Homo sapiens: one gene and its partners. The protein of the gene in region 4 interacts with the protein of the main gene of each other region in a pairwise test. Each region holds a gene or a part of one and is shown on either strand. Other genes may lie near its edges.

The links.
Region 1: the proteins of SLC30A8 (region 4) and TMEM52B interact in binary tests that used the Homo sapiens proteins (3 or more experiments, as listed by UniProt).
Region 2: the proteins of SLC30A8 (region 4) and PGRMC2 interact in binary tests that used the Homo sapiens proteins (3 or more experiments, as listed by UniProt).
Region 3: the proteins of SLC30A8 (region 4) and ZFYVE27 interact in binary tests that used the Homo sapiens proteins (3 or more experiments, as listed by UniProt).
Region 5: the proteins of SLC30A8 (region 4) and ARL8B interact in binary tests that used the Homo sapiens proteins (3 or more experiments, as listed by UniProt).
Region 6: the proteins of SLC30A8 (region 4) and THAP4 interact in binary tests that used the Homo sapiens proteins (3 or more experiments, as listed by UniProt).
Region 7: the proteins of SLC30A8 (region 4) and HSD17B11 interact in binary tests that used the Homo sapiens proteins (3 or more experiments, as listed by UniProt).

The regions. Positions count from the first base shown.
Region 1 is NC_000012.12:10,181,713-10,186,028, forward strand, and holds part of TMEM52B (transmembrane protein 52B isoform 2 precursor), read left to right. Parts: intron 1-837; coding exon 838-881; intron 882-3,617; coding exon 3,618-3,656; intron 3,657-4,316.
Region 2 is NC_000004.12:128,273,740-128,278,055, reverse strand, and holds part of PGRMC2 (membrane-associated progesterone receptor component 2), read left to right. Parts: intron 1-4,316. UniProt on the Homo sapiens protein: Required for the maintenance of uterine histoarchitecture and normal female reproductive lifespan. May serve as a universal non-classical progesterone receptor in the uterus.
Region 3 is NC_000010.11:97,746,866-97,751,181, forward strand, and holds part of ZFYVE27 (protrudin), read left to right. Parts: intron 1-1,403; coding exon 1,404-1,499; intron 1,500-2,608; coding exon 2,609-2,721; intron 2,722-3,465; coding exon 3,466-3,605; intron 3,606-4,316. UniProt on the Homo sapiens protein: Key regulator of RAB11-dependent vesicular trafficking during neurite extension through polarized membrane transport. Promotes axonal elongation and contributes to the establishment of neuronal cell polarity.
Region 4 is NC_000008.11:117,133,440-117,138,229, reverse strand, and holds the start of SLC30A8 (proton-coupled zinc antiporter SLC30A8), read right to left. Parts: upstream 3,236-4,790; 5' UTR 2,903-3,235; coding exon 2,832-2,902; intron 1-2,831. UniProt on the Homo sapiens protein: Proton-coupled zinc ion antiporter mediating the entry of zinc into the lumen of pancreatic beta cell secretory granules, thereby regulating insulin secretion.
Region 5 is NC_000003.12:5,169,976-5,174,291, forward strand, and holds part of ARL8B (ADP-ribosylation factor-like protein 8B), read left to right. Parts: intron 1-527; coding exon 528-608; intron 609-2,174; coding exon 2,175-2,248; intron 2,249-2,671; coding exon 2,672-2,765; intron 2,766-4,041; coding exon 4,042-4,109; intron 4,110-4,316. UniProt on the Homo sapiens protein: Small GTPase which cycles between active GTP-bound and inactive GDP-bound states.
Region 6 is NC_000002.12:241,609,183-241,613,498, reverse strand, and holds part of THAP4 (peroxynitrite isomerase THAP4), read left to right. Parts: intron 1-4,316. UniProt on the Homo sapiens protein: Heme-binding protein able to scavenge peroxynitrite and to protect free L-tyrosine against peroxynitrite-mediated nitration, by acting as a peroxynitrite isomerase that converts peroxynitrite to nitrate.
Region 7 is NC_000004.12:87,383,873-87,388,188, reverse strand, and holds part of HSD17B11 (estradiol 17-beta-dehydrogenase 11 precursor), read left to right. Parts: intron 1-4,316. UniProt on the Homo sapiens protein: Can convert androstan-3-alpha,17-beta-diol (3-alpha-diol) to androsterone in vitro, suggesting that it may participate in androgen metabolism during steroidogenesis.

The DNA of each region.
Region 1 (4,316 bases), on a different chromosome or scaffold from region 4:
TTAAATGTTATGAAATATTAAGAGTTCATGGCCGGGCGCGGTGGCTCACACCTGTAATCCCAACAGCACTTTGGGAGGCGGAGGTGGGTGGGTCACTTGAGGTCAGGTGTTCGAGACTAGCCTGGCCAACATGGTGAAACCCTGTGTCTACTAAAAATACAAAAATTAACCAGGCGTGGTGGCACGTGCCTGTAGTCCCAGCTACTCGGGAGGCTGAGGCAGGAGAATTGCTTGAACCCGGGAGGTAGAGGTTGCAGTGAGCCAAGATCACGCCACTGCACTCCAGCCTGGGTGACAGAGCAAGACTCAAAAAAAAAAAAAAAAAAAACAAAAAAAAAAAACTTGTTAGCAGTCTGAGTGGCATCTAGTAGCTATTCGATAAATAAGACTCTCTGTCCCACTGGCCCCCTCGCTTTTCCCCTTCTTCCTTTGTATAGTCATTGTCACACTAACAGGATAAAAAAAGAGCAGTGGTGTAGAATTCAACTGGGCAGGAATTAGGAGGACAATGGCAATATCCCAAGGGACAGAGAGATCAGGAATTTTCTACTACAAACAAATTAATGTAAATGGCTACCTCTCATTCACAAAGGGTGATGCTCACCCACCATCAACACAACAGATGAGATATTTGTTCTTCAAGGTTCCCTTACCTCAAGTACAAAAGCCAGCAAGTATGGGAGAGATGAAAATGGCAGTCCTAAATAGACTGCCCCTATGACCGTGACCTTCTTACTGCTTGATCTAACACAGCACAACCATGAGAGATGATTGGTAAGCAGCTGAACACAGTGGCCAAAACAATTTCCCTGTATAAGACAATTTCTCTTTCTACAGCTTTCTGGGACGAGATGTGAGGAAAACTGTGGTAATCCTGAACAGTAAGTATAGAGTTCAAGCTGGGAGGAAGGAGCAACAGACCAAAACATCACTACCCCAAAAGAGAGTCAAGATGTCATTAGACATCTATGACTTCTTTTTATTTATTTTTACTTAAGTAATAGATCTCATAGATGACTTATCACAAAATAAAGACGTGTTTTTGTCATCTTAAGCACTCAAAATAACACTGCTGACAGCATGTTTTTACCCAAAGCCAATCTTCCCATCAAAGCAGCACGATTAATCTCAACTTATACAGTCATAGAGACTTGCAAAAGACTTCCTTAGCCCTGCTCCTCAGTGACTCACCAGGACAGACGGTTTAGTATCTAGTCACTGGCATATATATTTGGGTGATTTCCAAAGTAACATTATTACTTTAAATTGGGAAAGTATTTTCTAGTTTTTAGGGCATGTTAACATTTATTGGGCAGACTTCATTTAGCTATCACTTTGATGTAGTTATCAACTAATCCAAACCTGTCACACTTAAGTCTTATGTAGACACAGAGGACATGAAGATAAAAATGCAAAAGAATCATTCCACTTAAAGGAACTGTAAAATACAAATTTTAAAAAGTAGTGGCACTTTGAATAAAAACGTGTTTAGGATGAAGAAAAATACATATTTAGCCATGGGAAGGGTTTCCCAATAGCCAGGTCTGTTAAACCCAGGGAAAGGGTGATAGCCTTGATTACCTGTCACATGCAAATTGGGTGTTGACTACTTGACACCTGCTTTCTGAGGTTTTACACATCTTCCACCATAGGAAGAGTCCTTTCCTATAAACCAGAGTCTAATTAGAACTAGAAGAGTTTTCAACAAGTAAGAAATGTGGGAAAACCAAGAGGAGTCATTGTTCAGTGAAAAACAAAACAAAACTATATTTTCTATAAATGTGTGACCAGAGAATAAAAATAGATTCACTAGATTTCAGTAGATTCCTGTATCAGAAAGAATTATTAAATAACAAAATTTACTACTCTTCAAAGATACACAAATATTTTGCCTCCCCTCATTCTCCAATTCCTGAACTTATCTTCTCCTTCTCCCATACAATCCCTATTTTTTTTTCATTCTTACAGAGAAAATTTACAATTGCCATAGTGAACTCAGAACATTATTTAGCTTTCATCATGGTAAAGTTGGCTTCTACTTTTTTCCCTCTTCCTGTTTGGTCTCAGTGGATATGCAAATTAGTTTTGATCCTGGATGTGAAAAATTAGGGTACTCTTTACGGTGGGTGTGATATTGTGAGAATATATATTTGGTTTTGTCCCTATCTCCTAGCATACAACTTCTAAAATCCCCAAAGTAAGTAGCATCATTTTGCATGCTAATGAGTTGATTGGTGGCTGGCAGCCCCTAGGTAGATTTAGGATGGGGCTGGTCATTGGAAGGACCAATGCAGAATGCTTAAAGCCTCACCCCTCAACATCCAAGGAAAGTAGAGGGGCTGAAGTTTAAGTTGATCATCAATGGCCAATGATTTAATCAATCACGCCTACATAATGAGGCTTTCATGAAAATCCCAAAGGATGGATTTGAAGAGTTTCTGTAAAGCTGAACAGGCAGTGGTTTCTGAAGGGTGGTGCACTCGGAAGACCTGCAAGCTCCGTGCCCCTTCCCACATGCTTTGCTCTACGCATCTCTTCATCCGCATCCTCGGTAATATTCTTTGTAATAAACTGTAGATGTAAGTAAGTGTTTCCCGGAGTTCTGTGAGCTGCTCTAACAAATTAACGCAACCTCAAGAGGGAGTCAGGGAACCCCCAATTTATAACCAGTAGGTCAGAAGCACAGGCAAAACAAATTGTGATTGGCATCAGAATTCTGGGGAGCCGTCTAGGGGACTGAGTCCTCACCCTATGGGATCGGATCCTATCTCCAAGCAGGTGGTGTTGGCATTGAATTGAATTAGAGGACGCTCAGCTGTTGTCTGTTGCTGGAAGATTGCTTGCCTGGTGTGTGCGGAAATCCTCACCCACCCACATCTGGTGTCAGAGGGTTGGGAGAGTATAGCAGGAAGAAACTAAGTTTTTTTTTTCCTACATTCTCAGTGGGAGTGTTGCAACAGCTTGCAAAAGATAAATTACAAATGTGATTGTATGACTTTCATACTCATAACTGAAATTTTCTTTATGTTTACATTTTATTGACCTCAAATATACACAAGCCTTAAGTTTCACATCCATTTTCAAAGTTACTCTTTGTAAACTTGCATTCCAAGTTCTTTCTTAGTATTTTTTTTTTCTTTTTGAGATGGCGTCACCACGGCCGGCTAATTTTTGTATTTTTAGTAGAGATGGGGTTTCACTATGTTGGCCAGGCTGGTCTCCAACTCCTGACCTCGTGATCTGCCAGCCTTAGCCTCCCAAAGTGCTGGGATTACAGGCATGAGGCACCGCACCTGGCCCTTTCTTGGTCATTTTTATCATAAATGTTTGCAATAGGCACAGACATGTTTTCTATGGACACTTCTAATGATCACTAGTTTGTTTTATAATGATTTACAAAATGACTCAGACAATGCCATCTATAGTATAAAGTACTATTTAAAGCATATCATTTGGCAAAAGATTCAACTAGCTACAGTGAATTTTAAAAACATAACCCATGGTGCTTTATTTATAACAAGGTATCACATCATATTGTAACTCATATTTCTGAGTCTGGAGTTATAACAGGGATTGACTATATTTTTAATGTAGAAAACTTTATTCTTTCTTTATAGTTGCCTGACCACAGACTGGGTACATCTCTGGTATATATGGTAAGTTTCACTTATAATACCCAGAAAGACACTGTATTCCTCAAGGCCATTAAAAATGACAACCTGCCTACTTACTTAGCATCTCATGGAGTAAGATTTCATTACTTCATCACTACCTATGTGACAATATGTCAGGATTTCCTTTTTCAATACCATCTCCTCCGCAAACATCAAACCATTACTGTGTCCTTCCCTCGGAGTCTGTTCTAGAAATATCTCAACGAAGATTACTTTAGTGAATTAAAAAGCAGAGCCTGGCCGGGCGTGGTGGCTCACACCTGTAATCCCAACACTTTGGGAGGCTGAGGCAGGCAGATCACTTTGAGGCCAGGAGTTCGAGACCAGCCTGAGCAAAATAAAGAAACCCCCATCTCTATTAAAAATACAAAAAAAGTTGGGCGCGGTGGCTCACACCTGTAATCCTAGCACTTTGGGAGGCCGAGACAGTGGATTATCTGAGGTCAGGAGTTCAAGACCAGCCTGACCAACCTGGAGAAACTCCGTCTCTACTAAAAATACAAAATTAGCTGGGCGTGGTGGCACATGCCTGTAATCCCAGCTACTCAGGTGGTTGAGGCAGGAGAATCGATTGAACCCAGGAGGCAGAGGTTGCGGTGAGCTGAAATTGTGCCACTGCACTTCAGCCTGGGCAACAAGAGC
Region 2 (4,316 bases), on a different chromosome or scaffold from region 4:
GGCCATATGCTCAGTTCACAATGTTGCTGAGCGCTTTTGACAGTAGCTCAAATTTCAGAAGCAAGATTGCACTTTCAGTCACTTATAGAATCATACTATTCAAGAGATTATTTAGTTTGGTCTCAACTTCAGGCAGGTAAAATAATTTTCCTAATTTATATTTGAGGGATCTAAGGACTATGGAAATCGAGACTTGTTGATTGTGAGTGGATCCTCTAGAACCCAAGTATCTGTCTTCTTGAGAGGTATTATTTCAGTTTTACCATACTGCATTCTCTCTAAAAGTCTTGGGACTTACTGGACCTAAGCATAAAAAAATTTATTAGTTCAGTTAATCACTTTTACATATTGCCTCATTTGTTGATAGGCTGATTATAATCTTATTTGAAATAAATTACCCAATACTAAGTGTTATTAGTTACTCAATTTATAATCACAAAAGATTATTGTCAAAACAGGCCTGAAAACTGCACTGTTGATAAACTTTAATTAATTAAAGTTCATCTCTGAGAGATATGGTTTTTAAACTGTGAGAATAATTAAAATATCCCTTTAGAAACACTAAGGTAGCTATATAATCATCCTAATAATCACAAAATTATCTGTTACTACATATTTACTTCCTCCTGGAATTTTCTGTTTATTAAATTAATATTTAAAACATTTTACAATGAGCATATGTTGTTGCTGTTTCAAGAATATGTCACCTCATTCTAACTGATTGTATTAAAGTAAGCAGTTTTAGGATACGGTAACAAATAGGTTTATTGAACTTTAAAATATCTTGACCACAAGTTGGATTGACACTGAAAACTAAATGAAATCTGAATTCTGACTAGTATAGTACTTCATGTTGGGTTTGTTTTGTTTGTTTGTTTGTTTGTTTGTTTGTTTGTTTTGAGATGGAGTCTCGCTCTGTCGCCTAGGCTGGTGTGCAGTGGCGAGATCTCAGCTCACTGCAAGCTCTGCCTCCCAGGTTCACGCCATTCTCCTGCCTCAGCCTCCCAAGTAGCTGGGACTACAGGTGCCCACTACCATGCCCGACTAATTTTTTGTATTTTTTAGTAGATACTGGGTTTCACCACGTTGGCCAGGATGGTCACGATCTCCTGACCTCGTGATCCGCCTGCCTCTTGTTGGTATATTTAACAATAGCTTTGAAATAAAATTTATCTTTAAAATGATGTCCTTGAATATTTGTTATGTAAGTATATTTCAGAGTATTTGCTTTGACTGAATAATGCTGTTCATTTTTTGTAGCACGAATTTGCTTAAAATTGGGAGGCTGTTTTTGGATCAGCATTATATTTTAATATTTGATAAAGCAACAGAATTTAATTCTTCTAGTTACTACTGAACTGTTAGTGTCTAAATGAGCCTTAATAATAAAAAATAACCAGATCATGTAAACTAGCCTTTTTAAAAATAAATTAGGCTGGGCACAGTGGCTCATGCCTGTAATCCCAGCACTGTGGGAGGTTGAGGTAGGCGGATCACCTGAGGTCAGGAGTTCAAGACCAGCCTGTCCACCATATATGGTGAAACCCCCTCTCTACCAAAAATATAAAAATTAGCTGGGCGTGGTGCCACACCCAATAATCCCAGCTACTTGGGAGGCTGAGTGAGGCAGGAGAATCACTTAAACCTAGGAGGCAGAGGTTGCAGTGAGTTGAGATCACACCACAGAGTGTGACTCTGTCTCAAAAAAAAATACTAATACAAATAAATAAATTATACCATGCAACAGACTTAAACCATTTCAAATTGGCTTTATTTGGGGAGCTCCCTATTGTTTTAGTATTATGAATAGCCAAGTATACTTACCAAATATTAGAATTGGTAAATATTTAGGTTTTTTATGTAAGGGGATAACGGAATGGGAAGGTATTGCTGACTTTTCAGATAAGCTCCTGGTTGTATTATGAATGCAGGGAAATCTCCTTTTATTAGACATCAAATCCTTCCTCAGAATAACCCATCCAGTTCCAACTTTAGTTCCTAATGTTATATTCTTTAATGGCCTTACAGAAGGCTGGGCATGGTGGCTTAGGCCTGTAATTCTAACACTTTGGGAGGCAAAGGCAGGAGGATTGCTTGAGGCCAGGAGTTCAAGATCAGCTGGGCAACATAGGGAGACCTTGTCTCTACAAAAAATAAAAGAAATTATGCAGGCCTGGTGGGCCATGCTTCTAGTCCCAGCTATTTGGGAGGTTAGGGCAGGAGGATTACTTGAGCCCAGGAAGTAGAGGCCACAGTGAAATATGATTGAGCCGCTGTACTCCAGCCTGGGTGACAGAGTAAGACCCTGTCTCAAAAAACAACAAAAAAAATTTTTTTAATGGTCTTACAGGAAAGAGCATAGAAAATTATTACTAAAAAGACCTTTGCAGAAGTTAAATGCTTCCTGAGGGAAATTCTAAACATATGGAGAAGACAGCTTAATATAGTTTAGGGAGTGGGGGAATATGTTAATCACTGAATTATTCTTTTCTATTCAAGAGTCAACAGAACATCATTTGTCTGGAATTTGGCTTGGATTATTAACTGTTGACTCAAGTTCACTCTTACCAAGTCAATCATTCCCTACCCCCAGTACCCCAGAAAGAGCATATTTTATGAAATTTTTTATTATTATTATTCATTCAGTGTTGAAGCTTTCTTAGGGAAGTTGGTAGAGAAATTAATAGAGAATGCACTGGTATATATTAATATACTCAAAGATGGAGGGCTTTCTGATTGCTGTTTTTATAATGATTTTATCTTCTCTCCTTTGTATCATTTAAATGTGTTTTATGGCTTATACTCTGAAGTGCCTGAAGTAGATTAATGTTTGCAGGCCATGGAGATAAATACTATAATAGAATGCTTAGAAAAGCTATTAAGTAGAGCTTTTTTGTTAATTCTCTTCCATTTTGATTTAATAAGTATTCTAAAATTTTCATTCCCTTGAAATTTTGTAAGTAGTAAAATGCTCCAGTTTTCATGGTCGTTACTCCATCTTTGGGCTTGTGAGTCTTCTATGTGTTTTCTTGAGGTACACTGGAGGATTTAGGAAAGTGGAAATAGTACTCTCAGTTCTGTCAGTAATTTTAGGCAAATCACACTGAATGCCTCCGCTCCTGTTTTTTATCTGCCAAATGGGGAAGGCAGTCTGTCCCTTCCACTTTGGGAAACTCTGAGAGAGAAAAGTGAGGTTGCTGGAAAATTCTTTTAAAAATTGAACCTATAATTTTCCATTTGTAGATTGTTATGGCCTTTATTAGTTTTATTTTTCCTTTTGTATGTTTCACTTTTTGCTTTTTTAAGTTTATAAGCATTGGTCTAGTCAGCATTAAGGGTAAATATAATGTTTATAGATTTTTTTTATCATTGTTTCTTAGAAATTTTTATTTTTAAACACACTAGTTCTCTGTCTCTGTCTCTCTCCTTGTCCTCCTGAAAACACCCATTGCCACAAAGTGTGTAGAATTTTGCACGCACATGTGCATGTACACACACAGACATAACTGGTTAATACCTTTTTTTTTTTTTTTTTTTTTTCTTTGGAGAAGGAGTCTTGCTTTCTCGGCCAGGCCGTAGTGCAGTGGCATGATCTCAACTCACTGCAACCTCCGTCTCCTGGATTCAAGCAATTCTCCTGCCTCAGACTCCTGAGTAGCTGGGATTACAGGCGTGCGCCACCACAGCCGGCTAATTTTTGTAGTTTTAGTAGAGATGAGGTTTCACCATGTTGGCCAGGCTGGTCTCAAACTGCTGACCTCAACACTGCTGCCACAGAGTTGGGATTACAGGCATGAGCCACCGCACCTGGCCTGGTTAATACCCTTTTGAATGTCAGTTGAGATGATAGAAAAAGTTTGAAGGTTACGAATATTGGCCAGTGGTAAATTGTGTTCCATATTCTTATATAGAAGACACATTTGAAAGTATAAAATGGTAGCCTATGTTAATAAGACTGATTAAATAAATTACAGGTACACATCCATTCAGTGGGATAATATATAACCATTCAATGATAAATAATTGTTGATAGTCATGTGATACGATGTAGCAATATGGAAAATGCAATAAGAATAAGAAAAGCAGAATACAAATGTACTTTACTGGAACTGTTAGCTTTACTTTCATGTTACTGTATCAATACCTATGAATGCTACTCTTAAAATTATTGCTAATGCTACTTCTAGTTCCATGCAGTAAACTTTTCAGAGAATGAATTTCACATCTGGTTAACTTTATAGTACAGTGCTGTTAGCAACTCAAATTAATACTCATAAATGCTTAGATATCTATTTAAGTGAAACCTCGATTTCTAC
Region 3 (4,316 bases), on a different chromosome or scaffold from region 4:
TTTTTTGTAGAGATAGGGTCTCATTGTCTTGCCCAGGCTGGCCTTGAATTCCTGGGCTCTAGCAATCCTCCTGCTTCAGCCTCCCAAAGTGCTGGGACTACAGGTGTGAGCCAGTGTGGGTGTCCTAATAAAGTTCTTTGTATCAGTTTCCCTGATCTGGGATCCAATTCAGGATTATACATCATGTTTAATTTTTTTATGTCTCTTTAGTCTTCTTTAATCTGGAGCAGTTCCTCAGTCCTTGTTTCTTGTGACCTTGACATTTTTGAATAGTACAAGCTTATTATTTTGTAGAATCTCCCTAATTTTTGGATTGTTTGGTTCCTTGTGATCAGATTTAGAGTGTGACAAGTGATGTGTCATGTTCAGTACATCCGTATCAGGAGGCACCTGATGTCAGGAAATACTGACTTTGATCACTTGGTTAAGGCATCCATACTGTAAATTATCATTTTACTCTTCATTAGTAGTAATTTGAGGGGAGATACTTTGAGACTATGTAAATATCTTGTTCCTCATCAAACATTTATCCACTGCTTTAAAAATCCATTGATGGGTCTTGCCTTAATCAGTTTATTACTATGATGGTTGCAAAGATGATCTTCTAATTATTCTATCGACATTTTTTTAGCTGGCTTTCTACTATAAGGAAGCTCTTTCTTACTATTATCAGTATGAACTCATAGATTTATATTTTATTTGATGAGTTAGAATCTATTACTATCATTATTTATTTTGATCTCAAATTGTCCTAGATTTGGCCAGTAGGAGCTCTTTTGAGTTGGCTCTTGTTTGCATTGGTCCCTGTCATTTTTGAATGCTTCCTTTATGGTACAACAGGATGGTCAAATTCATCTTATACTTCCCTGCCCCAGCCCTGGAATCAGCTTATCTCCATGTTTCCTGGTTTCCCTTCAGAAACCCAGATCTGGGTTCAGATTGTGCTCATGGCTTCTGTGGTTCATCCATGTTTAAAAAAACAACAACCAGAACTCCCCAAGTGAGTCTGTTTCACATCCCAGGTAGAGAATATCATGCCATTTATTCTGACAGCTGCTGTGTACCCGTGAGGTGGGTCCTCTGATCCTCATTTTATAGATAAAGAAGCCACAGCCCTGGAGAATTTCAGTAGCCTGCCTGACATCAACAGTTAGAAGACCAAAGCAGGAACATTTATACTGTTTCCACCTCAGCAAGAGGCTCCAAAAAGGGGACTGAAATGTAGCTGGGGTGGCTTAGCCAGGCCTGTTTCTCCCATGCTCTCTCGACTCCTCTCTCTTTAAGCACATGGTGAGTGTGTTTAAAGAGATTGACCATCCCTAGCCAACTGTACCTGCAAGGCCCCAGGCTCCACTTCCCAGGGCTTCTGTCCTGCCCACTCACCAAAGCCCCTGTGTCTGTAGCTTGATCCAGCTGGAGGCCTTCCTGAGCCGCCTGTGCTGCACATGTGAAGCCGCCTACCGCGTGCTGCACTGGGAGAACCCCGTCGTGTCCTCACAGTGAGTGACCCCTCCTCTCCCGCCACCACCCTATAGGAATTTGCAGCTTGAGCCCGAGCAAAGCCAGCTGCCTTGAGAGGACCTCTGCCCCTCTTACCTCAGGGGAAGAGCTCGCCTCCTGGGCTCTTGTGTGTATATCTGCACATATGCTTGCGGGCTCTAATGTACTGCTTTTGTTTAGATGCTTGCTTTTATGTGTGGTAAAAATAATAATAGAAAAATAACTCACCATATAATCCACCATGCAGCCGAATCTCTTGTTTGTTTTGCCTGCTAGAATTTGTCACATGCATCTACTTTACGGATGTATAGTTTCATAGTGTATGTTCAATTTTTCTTTTGTTTTCCACTTATCATTATATTAAAGATGATTTTCTTTGTTGCTATATAGCTTTTGGAATTATTTATAATACCAGATTAATATAGATGGCAAATATAATTTGTGAAACCATTCTGTTACAGATTTAGTCAATTTCCCTTTTCATTACTAACCCCATGGTAAACATTTTTATGGATTTAGCTTTAATGTTTTAGAAAATTTTTCTTGGAGTAAATTCAAGGATGAAACTACCATATCAAACAGAATGGGTGTTTTTGAGGCTCTTTAATATGAATAATAGTGATAACTAATGTTTGTTGTGTTCACCTGGTGCCAGGCACTGCTCAACACTCCCTCTGTATTATCTCACTCTTATAGTAACTCTATTAGGTAGGCGCTACTTCAGTCCCCATCTTACACGGGAAGGGAGCTGTGCCCAGAGAACCAAGAGACTTCTCAGAATGAGAAGTGGCAGAGCTGGATTCAAATCCCAGTCTGTCTTACTCTAGACTTCAGAGTCTAGACCTTAAGGAGTGATGATGGTTGAACCAGTTTATGTGCCACCAGCTGACACCACTTTGGCCTCACCAGCATCAGGTGTTTGCACCGGTGACTTGGGATAGTTCTCAGTCTTCATCGCCATTTTCCGCTGGTTTGATGAGCGGCTCTTGTCAGTTTATTAATGTGCCCAGAGCTGTGTCTCACCTGGACCCTGCTGTGGGTGTGCTCCAAACCCGTCTCCTTCTGCTGTTACGAATTTCTGATCTTGTGGTTCTTCCCTGTCATCCAGGTTCTATGGGGCTCTTCTGGGCACAGTCTGCATGCTGTATTTGCTGCCACTCTGCTGGGTTCTCACCCTTTTAAACAGCACGCTCTTTCTGGGGAATGTGGAGTTCTTCCGAGGTAAGCCCTGAAGGGCCTGAAAGATGGGGCCCAAGCTGGCTCTGAGGGCTAGGCTAGGCTCCCCAGTTCTTCTGTCTCTACAGCTAATCATCAGTTTGCTGTGCTTCCACAAGTGCAACACCACACTGGGGTCCTCTCTCATGGGCTCTGCATCTCTGAGATGTTAGATGAAGCTGGAATCTCACCAGGGGAGGCTGCTACCATTGGGCTCCCATCTCCCTTCGCTCCCTTCCCAAGGCAGATGAATCACTGCTTATATGATATGATGGCTTCTGGAAGATGAGGGAAGGATGTTTTTCCCAAAGCTGCCACCCATCCCCTGGGGTGCAGCCACCTGGAGTTGCTACCACATCTCTGTGTGATCCCAGAATACCCCTCTGTTGTCTGGCTTCTAAAGCGCTGAGGCAGTCTGGAGAGGCACTGAGTCGCAGAGGCCCGAGTCTGTACATATGTTTGGGTGATTGCTGTATTTGTTTTCCTCCCTGTGGTAGAGTTATTTATTACAGAAGCCATGATTTATTGAGCATTTACTACATTTAATCTCTGTAGCTGTCTGGGGCAGGTGGTGGTATCTAAGTTTTGTTTAAGAGGCTTAAGTTAGGTGACTCGCTCAGAGTTAGGAGGGTGACTCTTTCCTGTAGTGAAGGGAAGAGAGGCCAGCCAGCTGCAGAAGTGGGTACCCCTAAAGTGCCACTCACGGTGTCTCATTTTTGCCTCCTACCTTGTTCTCCATTCCCTGGGTAGTTGTGTCTGAGTACAGGGCATCTCTGCAGCAGAGGATGAACCCAAAGCAGGAAGAGCATGCCTTTGAGAGTCCTCCACCACCAGATGTTGGGGGGAAGGATGGTCTGATGGACAGCACGCCTGCCCTCACACCCACGGAGGTAAGTGCCACTGTCAGGGCAGAGCCTGCTGTGGCCGCTTGTGGGCCCCCCTGTTATCAGCTTGTTTTTGGCTCCTGGGCTGGCCTCTGTTGTAGTTCCTGCTATTTCCCAGGCCTTAACTCCCCTGAAGTGTTCAATAATAATAATTGTAATAAAAACAGCTACTCCATGCTTCACTGAGTGCTTACCCTGTGTCAGATGCTGCTCCAAGTGCTTTATAGATAGATATTCACATCATGGAGTGCAGGTTCTTTCTTTCCTTTTCTTTTTTTTTTTTCCTTTTTTTTTGAGATAAGGCCTCCCTCTGTCACCCAGGCTAGAGGGCAGTGGGGCAATCACAGCTCACTACAACCTCCATCTCCTGGGCTCAGGCAGTCCTCCCACCTCAGCCTCTTGGGTAGCTGGGACTGCAGGCAGGTGCCACCACGCCCAGCTAATTTTTTTGTATTTTTAGTAAAGATGAGGTTTTGCCATGTTGCCCAGGCTGGTCTCAAACTCCTGGGCTCAAGTGATGTGCCTGCCTCGGCCTCCCAAAGTGCTGGGATTACAGGCGTGAGCCACTGCACCAGGCTGGTTATTTCTGAGAAAGAGATCATTCTCATTTGTGGAAGAGAAGGCTGAGGCACAGAGTGGCTGGTAAGTGGCAGGGCTGGGTCTAAGACCCCAGCCCTGTGGTTCTAGAGCTCGTGCCTTCAACCACTGTGCGATGTG
Region 4 (4,790 bases):
ATCTATTCCTGCCCTTACTTCCTCTGCACTTCTTCAACATATGGCTTGGGGAAAAGAGAAACTTGATCCCTTCCACCTAGCACCAAGAAAAACATTGATTGTTTTTCGTGTTGTAGTTCAACTTTACACGACTTTTTTTTTTCTTTTTCTTTTTTTTTTTTTTTTTTTTGCTACAATGAACCCAAAGCCCAGAGAATCCCACCAATGAAACAGATTTGGAGAGAATGGAGAGGGTAAAAAAATATGGTTCATGGCACCTACTGGGTCCAATATTACTACTTCCTGTGGTAAAATGCCTGTAAAGATTACCTCCAGCAATTCCTGTCATCCAATATGCACATGCAATCAAGAGATAGAATCTATTGCCTCACCCATGGAATCTGAGACTTGGGACTTGCTTTAACCCATAAATTGTGATAAAAATGATACTGTGCCAGTTCTGGGCTTAAGCTATCTGAGAATGGTCAGCTTCCACTATTGCTCTCTTGCTACTCTGGACTGTCACATAAGGAATTCCAGGCTAACCAGATAAAGTGAGACATCATACAGGGAGAGAAGCCATGGGAAGAAGAATTAAGACCCCCGCCCCAGGCAAAAGCCAACACAAAGATCTCAGTCATGTGAGTGAAGCCATCTTAAACCTTCTAGCCTAGCCCAGATACCAGCAGAATGCAGCCTTCTATTCCAACTAATTCACATGGAATGCTGCCCAAATCCTGACCCAGAGAATCGTAATAAAATAGTTGTTGTTTAAGCCACTACATCTTGGGGTAGTTTGTTGCACAGCCATAGATAAATGGAACACTCCATTTGTGGAATTAGATAATAAAGTTTTCTTCAGAGTAAGTTTCTTAACAGCCAGTAACCATTTAAATAGAAAGCTGATAATAGAAAGTAGAAAGAAAAAGAGGTAGAAGGAGAAAAGAGGAGGAATATCAGGGGATAAAGTTATCCACAACTAATAGAGACAGAACAAAATAAATGAGATAGATTGGTAGAGGTGGGGGAAGAAGTGAGTAAGTGAGGGAATTCAGGGACATGTGACCTAAGGAGGAGATAGATTAAGGATTCAGGAGCCCACATGGTGCATGTATGGGTACAGGAGATGTAGACGGAGAAGGGGAACACTAAATTAACAAGAAGGGGGCCTGGGTCCACAGCCCAGTTCTGTTGTAATTAGCCATCTGCCCTCAAGAAACACATTTATTCTGACCTCAAGAAAGGCATTTGTTCTATCTGGCATTCAGTTTCCTACATGGTAAAATGAGGGATCGAGATAAATAATCTCTTCCAGATTTAATTTATTTCCCTTGACAAGAAAATACAAATGAGTTTGACAATTCTTATAAACACTGTGTCCTGAAAACCATACCTATTTATGGGGTGAATGAGACTTTGTAACTATAAGTGGTTGGCTTATTTGTGCAACAAAATGCTAATAGTCTATGTTAATAAGAAGGGAAATATTGTTATTTCAGTAATGTGGAGATGCTCTATTGATAGTATCCATAGGGTTAACAATTTTTTGTCCAAAACTTCTGCCTGACTTACCACAAGGCTTTGTTTTTTATGTTAATAACCTCAATACATCATATCTAATATTATTTTCTAAGAAAAATAATTCTTCTAATGTGAGATTGCTAGATTCTTTGTTTTAAGCCAAGTTATAAATATCCTTTTTATAAAATCTCTTTGCTGTTACTAAAATATTTGATGCTCCCAAACATAGTATCACTACTCCTTAGAATATTAGTTTGGCTTTGTGAAACAAACAAGAACATTACACGTATTATTAATGGGCAAGTATTCTCTTAAATTCTTCTTCTAACATCAATTCTTTTCAGATTTTCATTAGCTCATTTATATTCACTGAATGTGTTCCTTTTTTGAACCCCATTCAGATTCAACTCCTCAAACAAACCAAGCTCACATTCTTATGTATGTGAAAGTATATTTACTGTGCAATTATCGAAGTCTGGGAAACTTTCCTTAAAACTATTTTCTATGTAGGTTATCCCTAACCCTACTTTAATTCCTTTTTATTTTTAGCTCTTAGCCTATTACTTCTGAGAAAGCTTCCTCTGATTCCAAAGTCCAGTTATTCTTATTGAACACCCTCAATATGACACAAATACACTGTTTTGTAATTGCCTAGTTCTAATATGTATTTCACATTAGACTAAGTTTCAAGAGGACAAAGATCTGAAACTAGACATTTTTTTCTTTCTCATTATAAGTTCTGCACTTACTACAGGTGTGTTCAATCAATAATTGTTAACCAAGTGAAAAATGAATGAATGTATTGCATGTGACACTGTGGGAGACATTAAAAAGAAATGGAATACTTTGTAGAACATTAAAATCAGCTATATTTGTTATAGGTATGTATATTAATAATGATACTTTATAAGCATGAAAACAACAGCTCATTTTAAGATCAATACAACCACAATTTTGCCATGTAGCTGAAGTCTTAACTTTTTCTAAATATAATATAATAAAATTTACTATCTATCTTAAAATTGAGAATAATTGAGAAAAGGAAAAGTAAACAGATTATATAGGTCTATTTTCTGGAATAAACATGACAGATGAAAAACACATCAGTAAAATGTGTTCTTTATGCACTTAGGATATTTAAGGAATCAAATCAACTATATAAAGTATTGCATTTTTCAGAATATAAAATACATGTCAGTCAACAACTTATAAAATGTTCCAGAGTGCCCCCAAGTTGCAGAGTAAAGGCCTACAATTCAGAAGCAACAAGGTATAGGAATTGGATGATATTCAACAGAGAAAATTGTGAAGCAGACACAGACATCTATTACCTTTCTAGTGTGAAAGCATACATCTTGGCAGCTTTATCATTCACAAGATACGTTCTTTCAAGAAACTCCATGACGGCCAGGATGAGCTGCGGCTGTTGTTGTCGTTGTTGTTGAACTCACTGCCCAGTTTTGGAAGCAAAGCAGCACTGCAATTATTTATACACTTTCTAAAGAAAAAATTAAAAGGCTCCAGAAATTAAAATAATGAGCTTCCTACATCAGTGTTGTTGGTAGGTCTGCTAAAATTACAGCCTCCTTGCAATATTACCTGGCTTCATTGTTTTCACCTACAAAAACTGCTTTTCTAGGGAGACTTGCAGGTAGCATTACATGAAGTGTGTATGTCTTTCATATGATATCTGATTCAATTGTGCTTTCTAAGAGGTAGAGGAGCTCAAGAGCTTGCTACAAATTGCTGATGTAGGGTTTTGACCTTCGGAGCACACGTGGGTGAGCTGCAAATAGCTACCATTCGCTACACTAAACTAATTCTTTCTTTTTCTCTCCCTCCTCCTTTTTCTGGACTCTTTATCAGCCTAAAATTATTTCTTTGGAATTTAGTTCTAAGATGACCTCTAAGCAGCTGTCAGAATTTACTTGTCTCTCCTAGGACCATTTTGGGATTTCACTATTGAAAGGGAGGACAAGGGTCAATAGTTTCTGAAACCAGTAATCTGAAAACAGTTCTTGGTACAGCAGCTTTGAAATCCTTTTGATTGGCAAGAGAAGGACAGACTCTGCTTCTACGTAAATAACAGCCCTCCAAAATACAAGAACCAGAGTGAGCTTTGTTCTTCCTGGCCAAGGTACCCTCTACTAAGGATCAAGGATTCACCCAAGGAAACCCTATCAGGCATGCCAGTTCCAGCTCCGAGGAAGGAAGCCTCTGAGTTGCTCCTGGGAGACCTCACACTCCTCAACTCCTAGGAATCAGCATTTTACTTCATACAAAGCACTTTCCTTCCCAAATAAGAGAAAGAACTATAGCCTTATGGCAAGAGCCTGGACAAACAGTAGGCATTTGTGTGTGGGCAAAAGGTTTCAAGACCTATAAAGATGTACACAACGGTAGAGAAAGAGGGGGTTGTGCAGACTGGAGAACAGGAGTAAACCCCAGACCACCAGGTTCTTGTTGCCTTTTCCTTGTGTGAACACTAACTTTCTAGTGAGAAAACTCAGAGTAGTTAAGTCCCAGAATAACCCAGTGGCCCAGAGTCACGGGAAGTTGCCCATTATGCTGAGCTGAGATCTCTCACAATGGCCTAATAAAATGAATATTGTGCTCTAAAAGGAGGATGGGGTTCAATGCCAATTGTCATAGGCAGTGACAGGAGAAGTCACCTTTGGTTCAGAATGAGACTATTAGGTCTCCTATCACATCTGTGGTGTAGCTGTACCTCTTATTATCTTAAGATTTCAAACACTCTCATCTATAACATAAATTCTAAGGTCTTCTCATATGACCCCACTCTTACTGATCCTTAACTTTGCTCACACAGTTTGGAGCCTCTAAGAGGCTCTGGGGGAGCCTTTTCCTTGCAAGTGAAGGCATTGAAATCCTGGGTCTACTGTTAGCAGAATAAAAACCAATGTATTTTTTCTCGTATATTCTTACTCTTAACCTTACAAAGTAATCAGTTATTCTGTGGAGGCGAAAGTAGAAAACCAGAAAAGAATTACTAATCCACCTGTGTGACACACTGCCATATGTCACAGCTTGAATCATTTGTGAATAGTTTCTAGCACAGACAAGAGAAATAGAATTCAAGTGAATGAATGTCAGAAAATGAGGAAACTACTTTAAATCAGCCTGAAATTCATTAAGGGTGAGTACAAAAAAAAGAGATAAGCAATATTTTCAAATCAGGAAGGAGAATATTTGGCTATAGATATCAACAGGAAATAAACAATCTGGAAGTTTGAGATTCCTCCATGCGAACTTTGCCTCTAGTACAAATA
Region 5 (4,316 bases), on a different chromosome or scaffold from region 4:
AGCAGACAATACTCATGACATTGAGATAAGTAACCAAAAAGAGAACAAAATTGATTACATAAAAGGAAAAACTTCTGTATGACAAAATATTTTATAAGCCTTATTAAAAGACAGACTTGGAAATGCTGTTTAGCAGTGAATTTTAATAGTTACTGTCAGAATAATTTAAATGCTGAAAGTTTTATTTCTGATCTCATCTACTTTGTGGAAATGTACATCTAGGTGAACACATTTAAAAATTTTCGTATGTATTTGTCATATAAAATTCTTTTAGCATAAGGAAATATGTAAAAAATTACATTAGTTTCAAAAATATCTTTTTTAGATGGAAGAATATATCTTTGTTGGGACAAAATAATGCATCTCTTCAAGAATTATGGCCATAAGGAACATGTTCTTAAAGTAGATTGTTACCAATGGTAAAAAAATATTTACTAAAATGGTTACAAATGCAATGTTGATATTAGAAGTTTATGCAGTGTCATTATAAGTGAGTAGCCTAACTTCAAATGTTTTATTTTGTTCAGTCAGGTCAATTCAGTGAAGATATGATACCCACAGTGGGCTTCAACATGAGGAAGGTAACTAAAGGTAACGTCACAATAAAGGTAAGTTATTTCTTGCCGTACGCAATTTAAATTGTTAGCACAGACCCCTAGAAATTTTTCTGTTAAATTTCTGTGTTTTTACTGAAAATTTGCAGTTTTTCAGTAATGAATGTGCATGTTTCAAAAGAATAGGTTTTTTTGTTGTTGTTTTTTTGTTTTTTTTTTGGAAACAGAGTTTTGCTCTTTCACCCAGGCTGGAGTGCAGTGTCGCGATCTCCACTCACTGCAACCTCTACCTCCCGGTTCAAGTGATTCTCCTGCCTCAGCCTCCAAAATAGCTAAGATGACAGGCTTGTGCCACCACACCCAGCTAATTTTTTGTACTTTTAGTAGAGACAGGGTTTCACCATGTTGGTTAGGCTCGTCTCAACTCCTAACCTCAAATGATCTGCCTGCTACGGCCTCCCCAAAGTGCTGGGATTCCAGGCGTGAGCCACCACGCCTGGCCAAGAATAGATTTTTAATCTATTTTGTTTTTCAAAAATCAAATCTATGGCCTGAGCCTTAATGTCCATTTTGCCCAATTATTGTGGTTTACAGAAGCTGTTCACTTTCTCTGTGGCTCATCTAATGAAGTTCCAGATTTAGTCAAGTGCAGGTTTCTTTATGCTTGTTACCAGTGCTTTAGTTAAACCGGAAGCCTCTTGAAGATTAATACTGTGACTTGAGACTTTAATGTAGCCCAGTGTCTAGTGTGATGCCCTACGGAGTAGACACAATAATAAAATGATTATGGATGTGGCTTTCATGTGCATAAAATAATTTTATTTTATTTTATTTTTTTGAGATGGAGTTTCACTCTTGTTGCCCAGGCTTGGAGTGCAATGGTGTGATCTCGGCTCACTGCAACCTCCGACTCCCAGGTTCAAGTGGTTCTCCTGCCTCAGCCTCCCGAGTATATTACAGGCACCTGCCACCACACCTGGCTAATTTTTTGTATTTTTAGTAGAGATGAGGTTTCACTGTGTTGGCCAGGCTGGTCTCGAACTCCTGACCCCAAGTGATCCACCCGCCTCGGCCTCCCAAAGTGCTGGGATTATAGGTGTGAGCCACCATGCCTGACCAAAATAATTTTATACAAGAAAAACACCTATGTGGAAATGTTGGCTACTTATTTACAGGATAATTTCAAAAGGTTAGGCATTAATGTAGAACAAATCAGACGATTAAGACTTAATAGATTCTGAATTGTTGTTTTCTGTCTTGGCATTCAAATCTGGATGGTGCATGGTCCTGTAGCTTTTAAATTGTTATCATAAAGACATATGTTTTCAATAATAGAAGTATATTAGTTAACAGGCAAACTATTGCACATAAACCAAATCTTTGCTTAAGCAAAATTTTAGATGTATTGTAAATGTATTAAATACGGACTTCAAGTTTAGAAGTGGCCCCAAGAATTCCCATATTAAGAGCTTGTTTGAGGTCAAGTCTTTCAGGAGCACTTTGCCTCTAACATTGTAGAAATAAATATATCTTCCCGATCTTTCTTTTTTTCTGTTACTTCCTCTTGCAATCATTTAATTAAAATATCTTTATTAAGAATTGCCTTGTTTTGATTTAAAGATCTGGGACATAGGAGGACAACCCCGATTTCGAAGCATGTGGGAGCGGTATTGCAGAGGAGTCAATGCTATTGTGTAAGTGGTTTTTTTTTGTTTGTTTGCTTTTAAATCAATGTAGGCATCAAAGAAGAAAGTTTATTTTAGTATTTCCAGAGGCTCAATTTTTATCTCAGGCAGTGAAAATCTTTCTTAGCTAATATCCTAGTGTAATTCCCAACATGGGATTTAAAAAAAATTAATCATAGAATAAGATCTTTATGTTTTTTGTTTATGGAGCTAAGAGCTAAGGGGTGTACATGTTTTACTATCATGTATTAGTCTCTAAAAACAGTCTAGTTAAAAAGTATTAAAGGGTGCTGAGCCTTTTCTTATGACATAGTTTATTTTGGTTAATAATTTCAATAATGTAAATCTTACAAAAATTAAAAATCAATAATACTAGTTGTCATCATCAAGGCATACAGAGAAGGTATGTTGAGATCACTTCATTTTTTTAAGTTACATGATAGATGCTGCAGATCGTGAAAAGATAGAAGCTTCCCGAAATGAGCTACATAATCTTCTAGATAAACCACAGTTACAAGGAATTCCAGTAAGTATGGAATACTTGTTATTTTACATTGTAATTATATAATGATATTAATTATGGTAATTATGCAGTGATATTAATTATGTTTGAAATCAGTAACATGTCTTCATTTTTAAAATCTGGAAAACTTGCTTACCATGTATCTGCCATATACTGGGCATTGTGCTAAATATGAATCTCATAACCACGTATCTACTAAACTACTATGCAGCAGGAGCAGTGCGTAGGCCCAGGGATATAGTGATGAATGGAAATCAGTAGAAACATACTCCTTGCCATCATGGACCTTATGGTTTAGTGGGAAAGGTAGATACTCTGAAAACACTTGAATAATGCAGCTTTAAGTGCTAGGAAGAAAGGTGCAAGGGGATATGAGAGTTGTAATTTAGAGGGGAGATGTGATCTAGTTTGAGGGAAGAAGGAGGGATTCACGAGGAAGTAATGGTTGAGCTGAGATCCAAGGGATACATACAAATGTGAGGTATATGACAGTTGGAGGGGAAGAGAGTTCCAGGCAAAGGCCTTTGGGTGGGAGGAAGTGGGAAACTGAGAAGAGGCCAGTCTCTAGAATACATTTAGGAATTTGCATTTGGATTAGGAATGCTCAACCAGTAAGTATATAATGCAAATCCAAAAAATTTCCAAAATTCGAAACACTTCTGGTCCCAGGTATTTTGGATAAGGGATAGTAAACCTGTACTAAGAATAGCAGAATGCCGCCGGGCGCGGTGGCTCATGCCTGTAATCCCAGCACTTTGGGAGGCCGAGATGGGCGGATCACCAGGTCAGGAGATCGAGACCATCCTGGCTAACGCGGTGAAACCCCGTCTCTACTACAAAAAATCAGCTGGGCGTGGTGGTGGGCGCCTGTAGTCCCAGCTACGGCAGGAGAATGGCGTGAACCCGGGAGGCAGAGCTTGCAGTGAGCCCAGTGGCTGCTGCACTCCAGCCTGGGTGACAGAGCGAGACTCTGTCTCAAACAAACAAACAAACAAACAAACAAACAAAAAGAATAGCAGAATGTGTATCATAGACTCAGACTATTTTACATAGCAGTTGGCAGCCACATACTGAATTAAGAGCACCTGCATGGTGGGAGTTGAGTGAATACAAGTGTGAGCAATGAAATGAATGAGACAAGCCACCAGTTACACAAATAGGCCTTAACATTGTGGAATGTGTTAACATCTTAACTTTGTGTCTTCACATATCAAGATGATAAACTTCTGTGACTTTTTCTTGCATAAACGTGTGCTCTTAATATCTTTTCTTTTTAAAGGTGCTAGTGCTTGGAAACAAGAGAGATCTTCCTAATGCCTTGGATGAGAAACAGCTAATTGAAAAAATGTATGTCTTGAATATGCTATTTTAATAATTTGCTTCTAAATTACCATATTTTGCCCACTTGTTATGTTATTCCTAATGATCATAGCCATTTTTTTTAGGTAGATAAAAGTTGGCCTATCAGAGAAGTGAATCCTAACATTTTAGGATTGCTACGATGATTTCTTCAGTATAGTAATAAAACTAATGAGTAAAATTGAACAAAGTGAT
Region 6 (4,316 bases), on a different chromosome or scaffold from region 4:
TACAGATATGAGCCACTGCAACCGGCCCAGTTTTTAAAATGAAATCTTCCACTGCTACTTCATTTGTAAGCCTCTGTGGTGTCAGCTCTCAGGGACAAGACCAGTGGGGAGTTCTGCCCCTTCAAGGGTCCTATGAGTTGAGTGTCATGCCTGTACGACCAGGCATCTACCACCTATAACCAGTTTTTTTTTGTTGTTTCTATAACCGCTTTTTTTTTTTTTTTGGCTTAGTACATTCAGTGTTTACGGAGGTTTCTTTCCGCATCATTTCCCTATTGTCTCCTGATGACATCCAGCTGCTGGTAATGTCCTCAGGGAGAAGACATAGAAACAAAGCTCCTTGGGTGCCAAGGGTTGAAAACTCCATTCCTGCACTGTCGAAAAGGTCTAGAGAGTGAGTCTCTTATGTAGTTTAATATTTTCTAATAGCTACATTAAAAAGGTAAAAAGAAACAAGTGAAATCGATTTTAATAATATATTTTATTTAACCCGATATTATCTAAAAATTATTTCAACAGGCAACCACCCATACTATAAGATTATTGAATTATTTGAAGACTTTTTGGACTGAGTTTTCGGAATCTAGTTTGTAGCTCGCACTCACTGCACGTGTCAGTGAGCCAGCTCACGCGCCTGCAATCTGGAAGGATCGCTGTGGCCAGCCGTAGCATCCTTGCCACTCACCTTCCCTCCTCATGCGCCTTCTACGTGTGACTCTAGCGTCTTCTGCCACAGAACGCAGCTGTGGAGAAACACTGACCCACGTTCTGTCTCTGTAGATGTGTGTGTTCTGCACCTTTCACAGAAATGGAATTGCAGAATATGTGCTCTTTTGAGCCTGATTGCTTTCATATGGTGTGTTGTCAAGGGCCATTTGAATTGCAGCTTATATTAGTGCTTCATTTTTATGGCCAAATAACATTCCATTGTCTGGATATACTGCAGTTTGTTTACTCATTGGTTGACGGACATCTGTGTTGTTTCCACTTTGGGGCTGTTGGGAATGGTGCTGCTGTAAACATTCATGGGCAGCGTCCTGTGGGGACAGGTGTGTCATTTCTGCTGGGAGTGCATGTCTCCAGGAGTGGCAGTCCTGGGCCACTGCTCCACACTTAACCTCTCAGGCACATGCCAGATGGTCTTCACTAGGCTGTGCCAGTTCACGTCCCCATCAGCAGTGTGCCAGGCGTTCCCGTCCTTCTAACTTTGTTTCCATTTCTCTATCTTTTGTCTTTTTTTTTAACTCATTTCTGTCCTCTGTGTTCCGCTGTGTTTCCCGGTGTTTGTTTCTCCCTGTGCTGCTTCCAATCTCCACTTCATTTGGGTGGTGGCTTGATTTTTTTTCTTTTACTTTCTCGACTTCTGCCAGGTCATGTTTCACCTTCTCCTCTTTCCTTGCCGTTTCTCTCCTGAGTTCTTACATGTTTAGTTAGTGGTCTTTCTTCATGGAGCAGCTTCATTCAACTACTCGGGAGGCTGAGGCGGGAGAATCACTTGAGCCCCAGTGGTCTAGGCCGCAGTGAACCGTATTCATGCCACTGCACTCCAGCCTGGGTGACTGAGCAAGACCCTTTCTCTTAGTTTCACCTTTGCCCCATCAACATTTTGCAGTTTGTATGTTTTGCTGCTCTTGTTCACACTTGGTGTCTTGTCACCTTTTGTCCATCTCTGAACTCAGGCAGTGTCTTAGAGTCCATTAGTCCATTGCTGGAGAAGCAGAAGGTCTTCAGGAGCAGCATGCCTTTCTTTCTTAATTTTTTTTTTTTTTTTTTTGGAGACAGAGTCTCACCCTGTCACCCAGGCTGGAGTGCAGTGGCACAATCTCGGCTCACTGCAACCTGTGCCTCCGGGGTTCATGCCATTCTCCTGCCTCAGCCTCCCTAGTAGCTGGTACTACAGGCACCCGCCACCACGCCCGGCTAGTTTTTTATATTTTTAGTAGAGATGGGATTTCACCATGTTGGCCAGGCTGGTCTCGAACTCCTGACCTCAGATGATCCACCCGCCTTGGCCTCCCAAAGTGCTGGGATTATAGGCGTGAGCCACTGCGTCCAGCCGGCAGCACCCCTTTCTTTCGGAGTGGCGCATTACTTCTCTATGGCGGGTGGTGGGTAACCCTGCATGGAGGCCAGCCTGGGCCTTCAGCACCTGGGCGAACACCTGGGGTGTCCTGGGCAGACGCGTGGGGTGCCCTGGGCCTGCTGTTTGCAGGAGCTCCCTGTGGCAGAGCGGGGGCCAGAAGAGCCTCCAGGCTTCCCAAGTCCAGGGCTCCCCACTCCGCCCCAGGCCTCTGAGCCAGGCCAGACCCTGAGGCTTCTCAGGGGCCACCCCCCCAGCTCCCAGAGGCCCCTCCTGTCCTCCAGCGAGGCACTGACCCACCACTTCTCACAGCATCCGTATGTGTGTTTTGGTGGCTGTGGGTTGTATCTGTGACCTATTTTCCCTCAAAATCAAGTTCAGGGAAAAGGTTTTTTCGTTATTTTTGTTTTTTTTAATTCTTGGGAGGGAAGGTGATAATATTGTTACTTACCTGAGAGTCCCCCTCGGAGACCCCCAGAAGCTGGTTTTAAGGGAAGAAAGAGTAAGATCCCTTTCTGTGTCTCTGTCTCTGGCCCCGTCTCTGGCCCCATCCCCGTGTCTCTCTGGCCCTGTCTCTCTGTCTCTGTGTCTCTGTCCCCGTCCCGTCTCTCGCTGTCCCTGGCTCTGTCCGTCTTTCTTCCCCATTTAAGGAGCGCCTCCTCTCCGGTCCCCTCTGAGGAGCGCTGGATGGAGGACAGGGCCTCCCGGAGAGGACTCCACGGTGGGTGGTGGGAGGGAAAGACCAGGGGGAGGCAGAGGCTGCCGGTGAGAGGCGTCTGCCAAGTAGATGAGGGGCCGGGAGAAGACCCCGTGGCTGGGGAAGCAGGAGTGGGGAGGGCGGGGCCTCCGGGCCGAGGGGCGCGGTCGCTGTGGTCTGTGGAGGGGCTGGCGAGGCTCCCGCCTCTGCTCTTGCTGGAGCTCTTGAGTGAGCCCTGTGACGCCTGCTAGGTGAGGTGGCAGCCAGTGAGCGCGCCCCACCGCCCAGCGCCGCCCAGCCTCCGCCCTGACTCCTCTGCCGCTCCCCAAACAGGGCGCGGTGGCGTGACCCTGGCGCTGGGGGGCGAGCGCGGCCCTCCCGGTCCCGCAGGCGCAAGAGAGGGCGGAGATGCGGCGCCTGAGGCGGGGCTGCGCTTCCGGGGCGGGGCCGGCGGAGGCTGGAGGGGGCCGCCCGGGAGCAGAGGCAGGACTTGCGGCGCGTGCCCCTCACCCTAGCCCGGGGCTGTCCTGCCTCGTGGGGAGTGTGAAGGCCATGCCCGGCGCCGCGGCCCTGGTGCCCCTGTTCCACTGGGACCCTGGGGGGCGCCGCCAGGCCCCTTGGCCTCTTCCTCGGGGCCCTCGGGACCCAGGGGCCGGTGGTGGCCGTGCCGGGGACTCGGGCGTGAGGGGTGGAGATCGCGGCCCCGGTGCAGCAGCTCAGAACCTGGACTCTGGATCGCTGCTCCCCAGCGCCCGGGGTGCCGCTTCCCACAGGGTTCAGCTCCCATGCAGGCTGCGCTCACCAGTGGAAGTGGGTCCACCCGGTCCCAGGAGAGCCAGAGCCCCGTGGCAGTCGCTGTGGGGTGTGCTCCGCACAGGCCAGAGAGCCGGCCCAAAAACCTGAGGTTTGCAAAGCCTCTTTCTTTCTTTTTTTTTTTTTGAGAAAACGTCTCTGTCGCCCAGGCTGGAGAGCAGTGACACGACCTCGGCTCACTGCAACCTCCGCCTCCCGGGTTCAAGCAATTCTTGTACCTCAGCCTCCCGAGTAACTGGGATTACAGGCGTGTGCCACCACGCCCGGCTAATTTTTGTATTTTTAATAGAGACAGCGTTTCACCACGTTGGCCACGCTGGTCTCAAACTCCTGACCTGAGGTGATCTGCCCGTCTCGGCATCCCAAAGTGCTGGGATTACAGGTTCAGTGAGCCATTGCGCCCGGCCCAAAGCCTCTTTCTTTTCAGTGCTGAGCTGGATAAAGTCTACCAAACTGAAAGGTCTCCAAGGCTATAGCTGGCTGTCTGAGAAATTATGGTGTTTGTTTAGCCCATCTTAGGACTTGGGCTATCCCAGGTGACTGAGTTTTGCTGTTTCACACCTCCCAAGGTTCTTCTCATTCTTCCTTTTCTCCATTAATGGTAACTTGTCTTCTCAATTGCTCAGGCCAGAAACCTCCGTTACCATCTTTTCTTACGTGTTTCACATCCAAACCATCAGCACATCCGGGTGGCTCTGCCTTCAAGATAGATCCAGAAGCTAGGTC
Region 7 (4,316 bases), on a different chromosome or scaffold from region 4:
CTAGATTGTTTTTTTTTTTTTTGGTGTGACTACTAGAAAGATTAAAATTATATACATGGCTTGCGTTATATTTCTATGAGACAGTACCGGTGTAGAGATTTAAAGGGCTGGAGCTACAGATGATAAAATTTCCTGTATTTTGGCTTTTTACTCTGGGGAGTCAATGAAGGGTTTTGAGGGTAATTCCTATTGAAGAGGATCCTCCAGCTGCTGGGCTTAGGAGAGATGTAAGAGGAGAAAAGATGGAAGGAACAAGTAAAGTAAGAGACTACTGTGATAATCCAGGCATGAGATGAAATGATGGGGACTATTGAACCGGGTTGGCAGTAGCAGAGATTCGGAGTAATGGTCAGAAAAATTGAGGACAATGTAGTGAGTTTTTATTAGGTTAAATTAGTTTAATTTAAATAATCTATATTTTATTTTGAGATTATATCCTTCCTACTTTTTGTGGGTAAAAAATATATTTGTTAATGAAATTACATGATAACATATGAGGGTCATTTTGTTAGTTTTGAGTGTCCTTATTTGGCCAAAAGTTTGGCAATCCTAGTTCGGTATACACATCCCACTCTATTTTTCTTGCCGTTTTATAGATTTGAAATTATAGAAGGCTGAGAACCACTAAACCTGATTGGGAAAGGACAGGGTGGGGATTTGGAGCAGTCCAGGTAGCAGAAACTGGAGATGTGAAGCTCTTGGGCTGGTGAATACCTGGAGAATGAGGAAGAAAGTGGAGTGGTGTTTGATTGTTATGAGATCTAGCTGGCAGGGCAGGGAGGGGCCAAACGGAGGGCCCTTTCACCTAGAGTACAAAGACAATCTCTTAGATTCATCCATGTAATGAGGACAGCAGTGTCCACATGTACCATATGTTAATTTAGGGAAGAATTAATGGTGGTGTCAGCTTTGTTGTTCCACTAAGCCTGATAATGGGAATTATTCATTCTGCTTTGTGATAATCTATCACTTCTTGACTATTCTCATTCCCATGCTTGGTTAGAATAGTTTGTAGCCAGGCATGGTGGCATGCTTCAGTAGCCCCAGCTACTCAGGAGGCTGAAGCAGCAAGATTGCTTGAGGCCGGGAGTTCTGGACTGTGGTGCGCTCTGCATGTCTGCATAAGTTCAGAATCAATATGGTACCTTCTGGCGGTGGGCATGAAGGAGACCAAGTTGTCTAAGGAGGGGTGAACCAGCCAGGTTGGAAACGGAACAGGTCAGAGCTCTGGTGCTGTTCAGTAGTGGGATCATGCCTGTGAATAGCCACTGCACTCAACCTGCGCAACAGGGAGACCCTTTTTCCTAAAATACTAGTTTGGAAAGAAAAATTTACAGTAAGTGGTGAGCATATAATATATGCTCAAAGACTATTTGTTGAATGAAAAACTGAATTAATGAATAACTGAAAGAATAATGGGCATAATTTAAAAAGTTTTTCAATTTTTAGTAATCAAGGTAATGGGTGTAAAGGTCTTAGTTGTACCAATAGACAAACATATTTGAAAAAAGTTACCAAGGGAAATCTTGAAGAGTTATGAGCAATTGTACTGTGCTGCAAAACATTTTAAAGGAAGAATTCATTTTTTTTTTGAAGATCTGCTTATTTTTTATTTCTTACCAACTATCTACAGGGCACTGTCCGGAATTTTTTCTGGAGGAATTTAGAACTTAAATTTGTTGCACCGGCCGGGTGCAGTGGCTCACCCCTGTAATCCCAGCACTTTGGGAGGCCGAGATGGGAGGATCACTTGAGGCCAGGGGTTCAAGGCCAGCCTGGGCAACATGGTGAAACCCCGTTTCTCCTAAAAATATAAAAATTAGACGGGTGTGGTGGCGCATGCCTGTAATCCCAGCTACTAGGGAGGCTGAGGCAGGAGAATCACTTGAACCGGGAAGGCAGAGGCTACAGTGAGCTAAGATTGCACCATTGCACTCCAGGCTGGGTGACAGAGCGAGACTCCATCTCAGAAAAAAAAAAAAAAGTTTCACAATTCAGAAGGTGTGGAAAGCAGACCAACCTAAATGAGGAAGACCAAGGAAACAGGGCAAAAGTGAGACAGCGGATGTGAAAGAAGGGTATCTTTGCATCCATATAGTGGAGTGGTGGTTAGTTGCTTGGTGGTTACAGAAAGCCAACCAGTAATAAGCAAATCTCTGAAAACAGAATAAATGGGACATAAATTTTTATTGTAAAATTTGTTCATGTAAGGAAATATATTTGTTCAAAAAAGAGAAGACCCAATCAATACAATATACTTTTTTTTTTTTTTTTGAGATAGAGTCTCGCACTGTTGCCCGGACTGGTGTGCGGTGGCAAAATCTTGGCTTGCTGCAACCTCTGCCTCCCGGATTCAAGTGATTCTCCTGCCTCAGCCTCCCAAGTAGCTAGGATTACAGGTGCCCACCACCACACCCAGCTAATTTTTTATATTTTTAGTAGAGGCAGGGTTTCACTATATTGGCCAGGCTATTCCCAGAATCCTGACCTTGTGATCTGCCCACCTCAGCCTCCCAAAGTGCTGGGATTACAGGTGTAAGCCACCGCACCTGGCCAATACAATATACTTTTAAAAAACTTTTTAAAATATGGTAAAATATATGACATAACACACCATTTTAACCATTTCTGAGTGTACAGTTTAGTGGCATTAAGTACATTTACCTTATTATGCAGTGATCTCTTCTATTTCTCTCCAGAAATTTTTCATCTTCCCAAGATGAAAATCTGTACCCATTAAAACAATATATCTCCCCAGCCCTCTCTCTCCCCAGGTCCTGGCAACAACCATTCTATTTTCTGTCTCTATGAATATGATACTCTGGGTACTGCATATAAGTACATTCATATGGTATTTGTTTTTTGTGTCTGGCTTATTTCATTTGGCATAATGAAGGTTGTACGTGTAGCATGTGTCAGAAATTCATTTCTTTTTAAGGCTGAATAATATTCTATCCTATGTGTATACAACATTAATATACTTGTAAAAGGAAATGCCAAAAGCTGCTGGTTAAGTATAGGAGAGCAAAATAAAGTTTACCTGAGATGTTGATGTCCCTTGAGGAATAAGAGTTCCTCATGAGAGTATACTACAGTTTGTGAGGGAGATTTCAGTAAAAGAAAAATATTGTGGGAACCTGCCCCCAATATTTCAATGTAGCTTCTTTCTATTTTCCATAAGTGTCAGCCGGCTGAGAAATAAAGAGAGACAGTATAAAGAGAAATTTTACAACTGGGCCGCTGGGGGTGACATCACGTATCATGATGCCCCTGAGCCTCAAAACCAGCAAGTTTTTATTAAGAGTTTCAAAAGGGGTGGGGGTGTAAGAACAGGGAGTAGGTACAAAGATCACATGCTTCAAAGGGCAAAAAGCAGAACTACTGATAAGGGTCTATGTTCAGTGGTGCACATATTGTCTTGATAAACATCTTAAACAACAGAAAACAGGGTTCGAGAGCAGAGAACCGGTCTGACCACAGATTTACCAGGGCAAAGTTTTTCCCCACCCTAATAAGCCTGATAGTACTGCAGGAGACCAGGGCGTATCTCAGTCCTTACCTCAACCACATAGGACGGACATTCCCAGAGCAGCCATTTATAGACCTCCCCGTAGGAATGCATTCCTTTCCCAAGGTATTAATGTTAATATTCCTTGCTAGGAAAAGAATTTAGCAATATCTCTCCTACTTGCACATCCGTTTATAGGCTGTCTGCAAGAAGAAAAATATGGCTCTTTTTTGCCCGACCCCACAGGCAGTCAGACCTTATGGTTGTCTTCCCTTGTTCCCTAAAAATCACTGTTATTCTGTTCTTTTTCAAGGTGCACTGATTTCATATTGTTCAAACACACATGTTTTACAATCAATTTGTACAGTTAACACAATTATCACAGTGGTCCTGAGGTGACGTACATCCTCAGCTTATGAAGATAACAGGATTAAGAGATTACAGGCATAAGAAATTATAAAAGTATTATTTGGGCACTGATAAATGTCCATATTAAAATGAAATCTTCACAATTTATGTTCTTTGCCGCGGCTCCAGCCGGTCCCTCCATTCGGGGTCCCTGACTTCCCACAGGAGAAAAAGAACTTGTTTCCCTTTATTATCATAACAGTTTCACTATGCAAGCTACTAATTCTCCCCACAGCTGTCCAGATTTGGCCTTTCCAACATTAGTTGCCATTTACAAATGTGTACACTGATTCACCATCCTCTCTGTGGATAAATGTATGAGTCCTCCTAGGGTCTGCCCATTAGTGCATTAGTTGACAATTATTAGGTTGATGCAAAAGTAATTGCAGTTTTTGTCATT